Linked DNA regions of Homo sapiens: regions 2 and 3 are each linked to region 1. Evidence: fine-mapped expression QTL. A gene starts in region 1. Each other region holds a variant in brackets. All regions are shown on one strand. Distances are from middle to middle. Region 1 holds the start of DENND5B (DENN domain containing 5B). Region 2 overlaps DENND5B (DENN domain containing 5B). Region 3 overlaps LOC124902913 (a long non-coding RNA gene).

What was found. PIP is the estimated chance that this variant, and not a neighbour inherited with it, causes the effect.
Region 2: its variant is the best candidate, but not a certain one, in a credible set for the expression of DENND5B in whole blood (TOPMed, PIP 0.73).
Region 3: its variant is the best candidate, but not a certain one, in a credible set for the expression of DENND5B in whole blood (INTERVAL, PIP 0.62).

What each region holds. Positions count from the first base shown.
Region 1 is chr12:31,589,969-31,592,728 of GRCh38, reverse strand. DENND5B (DENN domain containing 5B) reads left to right here and starts at 1,593. Exons shown (of 21, transcript NM_144973.4): 1 at 1,593-2,023. The coding sequence starts at 1,897. It overlaps DENND5B-AS1 (DENND5B antisense RNA 1), which reads right to left. Exons shown (of 3, transcript NR_046909.1): 1 at 2,610-2,760. RefSeq lists an enhancer at 783-1,012 and silencers at 1,443-1,732, 1,803-2,072, 2,223-2,562.
Region 2 is chr12:31,473,871-31,476,630 of GRCh38, reverse strand. All of the region lies in intron 3 of DENND5B (DENN domain containing 5B), which reads left to right. Among named protein-coding and RNA genes, the nearest start is that of LINC02387, 110 kb to the right of the region's middle. The variant A/G (reference allele first, on the strand shown) is at 1,492.
Region 3 is chr12:31,646,365-31,649,124 of GRCh38, reverse strand. The region is part of intron 1 of LOC124902913 (a long non-coding RNA gene); the gene reads left to right. It also overlaps a transcript of ETFBKMT not described here. Among named protein-coding and RNA genes, the nearest start is that of ETFBKMT, 12 kb to the left of the region's middle. The variant T/G (reference allele first, on the strand shown) is at 1,265.

The sequences.
Region 1 (2,760 bases):
TCAAACTCCTGACCTCAAGTGAGCCTCTCGCCTTGGCCTCCGAAAGGACTGGGATTACAGGCTTGAGCCACTGCACCCGGCCTCATTTTATTTTTATAGAGACAGGGTCTCTCACTATTTTGCCCAGGTTGGTCTTGAATTCCTGGACTCAAATGCTCCTCCTGCCTTGGCCTCTCAAAGTGCTGGGATTACAGGCCTGAGCCACCATGGCCAGCCTCTTTCATTTCAAAATTGAAGAAAGAAAGTGAAGATACAAGCTACATTAAATGATGGTATGCACGCACATGTATCTTCTAGGAAGAACATTATTCAGTCAAATAATCGAGGTTCTCTCAGGCAACCTCTCTGGAAGGTTTGCTTGTATGTCTAGTGGTAGATGCCCCAAATCCCCAAAGAAGAAAGCAGGGAGTGGTGTGGAAGGGGTTGCCATGTGGAGATGAATTGCATTCAGTTTTCTATCTTTTAAGTTTTATTTTTACTTACATGGCCGGGCACAGTGGCTTATTATGCCTGTAATCCTAGCACATTTGGGGGCCAAGGCGGGAGGATCACTTGAACCCAGGAGTTTGAGAGCAGCCTGGTCAATACAGTGAGACCCTGTCTCTTAAAAAATTATTTTTTAAATAAATAAATGTTATTTTTTTACTTAGATGGAGACAGAGTCTCCCTCTATTGCCCAGGCTGGTCTTGAACTCCTGGTCTCATGTGATCTTCCTACCTGGGCTTCCCAAAGTGTTGAGTAAATTACAGGTGTGAGCCACTGAGCCCAGCCAGTTTTCTTTCAAAGGAAAAAGAACTGGTTGTCGAGTTCCTTCCGAGAAGGCAAAAGACAGCTGAGCAGGGCAAGAAAGCCGTGCCTTTGGGAGGAGCAGAGTTCATGGTCTAATTCCTGTTGCTTTAGCCTCCGATTGTTACTTGCGGGGAGAGCCGATAACATCGGATGGGTACAGGGCTGCGGAACTGGAGCGCCTTGGCTATTTACACTGACCTGGAAAATGTCAGGATAAATGACAGAAGGCGGGGGTTGGTGACTGCACTCCTTCTAGAAGTCTCAACGCTTTGTGGGTATTGAGTTGTGTTTTTTCCCCCTCACGGTTGACTTGTCACTAAGTCACTAAGGATGGCCTGTAAATGGGGTGACGGCTGGGGGAAGGGAGGACCTTAAAGTGAGACAGGCACCCCCACACAGGTCACAGTTTAAAAGACGATGGTTCAGACCGTTATGCGAAATGATCTCAGAGCGGCTGTTCACCTTCCCCAAAGCTGCATTAAAAGAAATAAGGATGGGTGACAACCCCTTTAGAAGACAGACCCCCACACTGAGGCTAGCCCTCTTATCGGCTGGCCAGGGCGAGGAGGGGTGTGTGCAGGGTCGCCCTCGATGCCGCAGCCGGGGCCAGTGGGCACGAATGCGGCCCCACGCCAGGCTTGGCCTCCGAACCCGCTAGGCGCGCGCGCACGGTAGAAGCGCGCGCCTCCGTCCCTCGCGAGCGCGCCCCCCACCCCTCTCCGTCGCACGCGCCGAGCCCCGGCGCCCCCGCCCGCCCCGCGCTCCCACAGCCCGAGCGCCGCTCAGCTGACCCGCGGGCGCCAGACGCGGCGGCTCTCAGCTCGCGAGCGCAGCTGCGGCTGCGAGGGCCTCTCAGGCCGACACTCCCCCCGCGCCCCTCCCCCACCCGGCCGGGCTCCGGACCCGCCGCGCGCGAGCCCGCGGCCGCTTCCCCCGCGCCGAGCGAGGAGGCAGGCTGCGGCGGCGAGAGGCGGCTGCGCGGCCATGGGCGCGCCAGTGTCGCCCTAGGGCGGGCGCACAGACCACAGCCGGAGCGGTGGTGGCAGCCTCCGCAGAAAGCCTTCCCGGGCGGCGGCGGCGGCGGCCCCTGGAGCAGCGCGGCCGGGATGAGCGGGAGCTGCGCGGCGCCCGGCCCGGGCTCGGGCTCCTCCCCGGCCGCCTGCCGCTTCGCGCACTACTTCGTGCTGTGCGGGATCGACGCGGACAGCGGGCTGGAGCCTGACGAGCTGGCGGGTAAGGCCAGGGCTGCGGCGGCGCTGAGCCCCCTCAGGGGCGCGGGGGACGCTGTGGGGACGCGCGGGAGGCGGGGTGCAGGCTCCAGACAAAGTCAGCTCCCGGTGGCGCCCTCCCGCCGCTTTCTGGCCGAACTGGCGCTCGGGCGCGATTTAATGACATTGTTATTTATTCCGCGTGCGGGCTTTGCGGCTGCGCCCACCGGGGCTTTCGCCTCCAGGCGCTGGGTTATTAATAACAGGCGCGGGGGTGGCCCCAAGGGCACGGACCCCGCCTGGCGCGCCGGCCCCTTCGCTTGCAGCCGCACTCGGAGGCGGCCGGTGAGTCACCGGGCGCGCGGGCTGCCCCCCGACCGCCGTGCCTGCCTCCCACCCGCCAGCCACCCGGCCCCGGCCGCGAAGTTTCGGCCCCGCACGTGACGCGGCTTTCGGGCCTCTTCGGGAGACGGGGAGTCGGACTCAGCTCGGCTCCCGCCGGGGTAGCGTCCGCGGAGGAGCCGGTGGCCGTGCGGAGCGAGCGCGGGGCGGGGACCGGTCGGACTCTGCCCTCTGCGCCGCCTGCCGCTCTGCGGTGCCGGCCAAGTCACCTTTTGGAATCCTGTGGATTTGGCCGCGTCTGGGAGCTGGCAGGGACCTTTGGACGCTCGGGACCCAGCACCGCGCTTTGTTGACACTGCCTACACTGTTCCCGAGTTTAAATTCAGTTGGGTGCACCGTGTGTTAGTGCCTGGTTTTCCC
Region 2 (2,760 bases), 120 kb after region 1:
GAGTATTGGTTTTTGAAGTCATAACAATCCTGGGTTCAAATGTCTACTCTGTCATTTATTAACTATACCCATGGGCGAGTTAGGTAATCCTCCTGTGTGACAGTTGCCACATCTCTATAGGGATAATAGTTTGGGTTTTTTTTTTTTCTCCTTTCTCACTGATCTATTATGACAATTAAATAAGAAAACGTGTATAAAATACTTAGGGTATAATTGACACTGACTAAATGATAGCTGATGCTATTATAATAATTACTAGTTTTATTAGTCCCATATAATCTTCTATAAATTACACTTATCTCTAAGTTGTGAAGGTTCAACATATTACTACATTTAACATAAAACCTTTTTAAATGATACAGTCAAGAGTTTATTCCAGAGTTGAGAACCTAATAAATGTTCTTTTATATTGTATACCATGCTTTTTTTAGAAGGCAAAAAAAAACTCCAAAAGCTTCCATTATCACACTTCCTCTTTTATTTTTTATTTTTATTTTTTTTTATTGAGACGGAGTCTTGCTCTGTCACCCAGGCTGGAGTGCAGTGGCGCAATCTCAGCATATTGCAACCTCCACCTCCTGGGTTCAAGCGATTCTCGTGCCTCAGCCTCCCAAGTCCCTGGGACTACAGGCGCGCACCACCATGCCTGGCTAATTTCTTTGTATTTTTAGTAGAGATGAGGTTTTGCCATGCTGGCTAGGCTGGTCTCGAACTCCTGACCCTAGGTGATCTGCCTGCCTTGGCCTCCCAAAGTGCTGGGATTACAGGTGTAAGCCACCGCACCCGGCCCACACCTCCTCTTTTAAGTAGCAGGTTATGTCTCACCGTTTGTGGTCTGTCCTGAGCTCTCCTATTTCTGCTCTTTTTTTGTTTGTTTGTTTTGAGACAGGGTGTCACTCTGGTGCCCAGGCTGGAATGCAGTGACATGATCGTAGCTCACTGCAACCTCAAACTCCAGGGCTCAAGCAACCTTCACCCCTCAGCCTCCTGAGTAGCTGGGACTACAGGCATGCATTACCATACCTGACTAATGTTTTTTATTTTTAGTGGAGATGAAGTCTCACTACACTGCCCAGGCTGGTTTGAAACTCCTGGGCTCAAGCGATCGTCCTGCCTCAGCTTCCCAAAGTGTAGGGTTTACAGGTGTGAGCCACTGCTTAGCTTGTCCTGTTTGGTTTGTGGAGTCTGTTCAGGAGTTTTAGCTCATTAATATCTACCAATTTATTTCAGTTTCAAATGAAGAAGAATAAGCATTTATGGATATGGTTTTATACTCTATTTTTTTGTAATCTGTATGCCGAGAACAACAGAGTGAATCCTGAGATTATAGAGCTAGATTTTTAAAAAATTTAAAGTGACATACCCCAAAAAATTGCCATACAGTAAATTTATAACCATTCACTAAAATCACTCTATGTTAGGAATTGTGCTACAAAAAGGCATTGTATATTTTGGATCTTTTCCCTACATTTAATCCTCTCAACAGCAGTG[A/G]GTTAGTGCTGTTGTGCATTTTTTGTTGAGGAGGAGATTGAGGCTTGGGGAAACTAAGTAATCTGCCCAAGATGATACAGCTAGTAAGTAATGTAGTACTACTAAGAATTGGGTTTCATCAGTCTTTTTTCAGATGCTTAACCACTGTGTTAACTGTATTGGGCACTGCACTTAACCTCTCCTTATCTGTCTCAATATTTATTTTTAAATGATTAACTCATTCTGTGGGTCTATTGTAAAGGTGTCATGCGAAGTAATTGTAGAGTATAAAATGAAAGCGCTGTGTAAATCTAGATTTTAATATTGACAATGTCTCTTCTATTAGAGAAAAATATTTCAGTTAAATGAATGAAATAGGTGTCCTTATGTTGATTTGTACTTGGGTGCCCTCCTTTACTCTTCTTAACTGTGTTAAGGGGGTTTTAATAACATGTGATACTTCATTTCTTACTCACTGATAAAGCTATGCCATAAATTTAAAAACATTGCGTGTGCTGAAGAGTTACCATGAAAACCCAAAGTGAATCAAAGTAGGTGGATTTCAGTGATGAAAATGTCCTTCTAGACTGATTTGAAATTCTGATCCACAGCCCATTTAAACCAATTCAATCTGTTATTTAGGAAATGCATATATCACTGTCACTTTGCAGTGGTAACTAGCTAGAAATTCTAAGTAGAGAAAATGTACCCAGGATGTGAAGGCTCTTTTCTAGGACCCCAGATCAGAAATGGGCACTTTGTTCTGCAACTGGGAAATACCTGGAGCAGCACAGTATGAAAATCAGAGTATGATTCTTTTTTCAAAGAACTAGTGGAAGAATAAAAGGGGAATTTAAACACCATTGTCTAACTTTTGATACCAATAATTGAAGTCTAAGAAACATTTTTGGGCCTTGCTTACCTCCTTTGGTTCTTCATAGTGGAAATAAACCACTACCCACACCACACTGCATGCCTGTGTGCCTTTGCAGTGCTTGTCTGCCATCCCTCTGTTCGTTTCATTCCTCTTTGAGTTGTATGTGAATTAACCTTGTCAGAAGGTGGAAGCTACTTAAAGTTTTCTTGAAAAAGTTGGGAGCTTTCTCATCACAAATTGCTAGGCATGCTCAAGTGGACATCATAGTTCTCCTTGGAACTGCCATCCATAAACCAAACAGTACTTTGCTGGTCAACTGAGAGGTATTTATAGGGCATTGTCCAAGTGACAATTAAATGCAGAAGGTTCTCCTACAGTTCCAAAGTCAGTCCAAGGGAAAAAGAGGCTCCCTA
Region 3 (2,760 bases), 56 kb before region 1:
AAAACATTAGCCCGGCATGGTGGTGGGCGCCTGTAATCCCAGCTACTTGGGAGGCTGAGGCAGAGGTTGGCATGAGCCAATTGCACGCCACTGCACTCCAGCCTAGGTGACAAAGCGAGACTCCGTCTCCAAAAAAAATACAACTATTGGTCGGGCGTGGTGGCTCATGCCTGTAATCCCAGCACTTTGGGAGGCTGAGGCAGGCGGATCACAAGGTCAGGAGTTCAGGACCAGCCTGACCAACATGGTGAAACCCCGTCACAGGGCTGGGCGCGGTGGCTCACGCCTGTAATCCCAGCACTTTGGGAGGCCAAGGTGGGCAGATCACAAGGTCAGGAGATCGAGACCATCCTGGCTAACATGGTGAAACCCTGTCTCTACTAAAAATACAAAAACTTAGCCAGGCGTGGTGGTGGGCCCCTGTAGCCCCAGCTACCTGGGAGGCTGAGGCAGGAGAATGGCTAGAACCCGGGAGGCAGAGCTTGCAGTGAGCCGAGATTGCGCCACTGAACTCCAGCCTGGGAGACAGCGAGACTCCGTCTCAAAAAAAAAAAAAAAAAAAAAAAAGAAACCCATCTCTACTAAAAATATAAAAATTAGCTGGGCATGGTGGTCCATGCCTATAATCCCGGCTACTCAGGAGGCTGAGGCAGGAGAATCGCTTGAACCTGGGAGGCGGAGGTTGCAGTCAACTGAGATGGTGCCATTGCACTCCAGCCTGGGCAAAAGAGCGAGACTCCATCTCAAAAAAAAAAAAAAAAAAACTATTTACATCATATTCAACATTATAATCTACAGATGATTTAAAGTAATTATGCAAATACTACATCATTTTATATAAGGAACTCAAGCATCCATGGATTTTGATATCCTCAGGGGTCCTGAAACGAATCCCCTGTGGATACTGAAGGACAATTGTACTACATTCCTTTTGTGGCTAAATAATATTCCATTATGTGAATATTCAGTACTATATTGTGTTTCTCCATTCATCTGTGATAAACATTAAGGTGGTTTCCACTTTCTGGCTATTATGAATAATGCCACTATAAACATTAATGTACACATTTATGTGGAGACATATGCTTTCAATTCACTTGGGTATATACCTAGGAATGGAAGTGCTGGGTGATATAGTAACTCTATGCTCAAATTATTTAGGAATTGCCAGACTGTCTTCCAAAGTGACTGCACAATTTTACATTCTCACCAGCAATTTATGAAGGTTCCAATTTCTCCACATTCTTATCAACACTTGTTTTTT[T/G]TTTGTTTGTTTGTTTTCTTTGGTTTTGTTTTGAGATGGAGTCTCCCTCTGTCACCAAGGCTGGAGTGCAGTGGCGTGATCTTGGCTCACTGCAACCTTCGCCTCCCGGGTTCACGTGATTCTCCTGTCCCAGCTTCCCGAGTAGCTGGGATTACAGGCACCTGCCACCACACCTGGCTAATTTTTGTATTTTTAGTAGAGACGGGGTTTTGCCATGTTGGCCAGGCTGATCTCGAACTCCTGACCTCAGGTGATCCACCCGCCTCAGTCCCACAAAGTGCTGGGATTACACGCGCCCAGCCCCTAAATTACCTCTTTAAGCTTCAAAATAAGCATAGGATGTAGGTATACTATTATGACCTCTGTTTTAGAGGTAAAGAAGTGAAGTCACAGGAAGGTTCAGTAACTTGCCTGAGGGCTCATAAATAGCTGGCAGTAGAGTTGGGATGACACACATGTCGTCTGGTTCCAGAGCTGCACTTAAACACAGGACGTAGACTCGGTAATGAGAAAGAGGAAGCTATTTCAAGCACGAGCCAAAGGCAGGGATTTACAAGTTCATTGCAGAAAATAAACAGCCCAGTCTGACTACGAAGAGCACTCACCGGAGCCAGGTTGCGGGAGATGAAATGAGGATAGGGTGAGGCAGGCTGGTGGAGGGCCTGGACTGTGAGGCTTAGAGGCTTGGATTCCATTAAGAATATTAATTGGGAGTCATGGTTGGTTGGTGTGTGGTCAAGGGAACAATAAAACAAAAACAGCAGCTCAGTGGCTGTCGACATGTTAATGGCCTTTGAAAATAAAGTATACAAACAATGAGTGGCAGGAAGGCGAAAAGAAAGCTTTCTCATCACCAAGCTCAAACTACTCTGCATTATAATTACACAATATAAAAAGATGGAGGATCATGCCTGTAATCTCAGCACAAGATCCTTAGGGAGGCTAAGGTGTGAGGACTGTTTGAAGCCAGGAGTTTGAAACCAGCCTGGGCAACATAGCGAGGCTTTGTGACAAAAAATACGAAAATTCCAGCCTGGGCAACATAATGAAACCTGGTCTCTACAAAAATTGTAAGAACTAGCTGAGCATGGTGGTGCACACCTGTCATCCCAGCTACTCAGGAGGCTGAGGCAGGAGGATCACCTGAGCCCAGGAGGTTGATGCTGCAGTAGCCATGTTCAAGCCACTGCACTTTAGCTTGAAGGACAGAGCAAGATGCTGTCTCTAAGAAACAAAACGAAACAAAAAAAGGCTGGGCGAAGTGGCTCACGCCTGTAATCCCAGCACTTTGGGAGGACAGGGTGGGCAGACCACGTGACATCAGGAGGTCAAGACCAGCCTGGCCAACATGGTGAAACCCCATCTCTACTAAAAATACAAAAATGAGCTGGGCGTGGTGTCATGTGCCTGTAATCCCAGCTACTTTGGAGGCAGAGATTTGAAAATTATTTGAACCCGGGAGGTGGAGGCTGCAGTGAGCCAAGATCATGCCACTG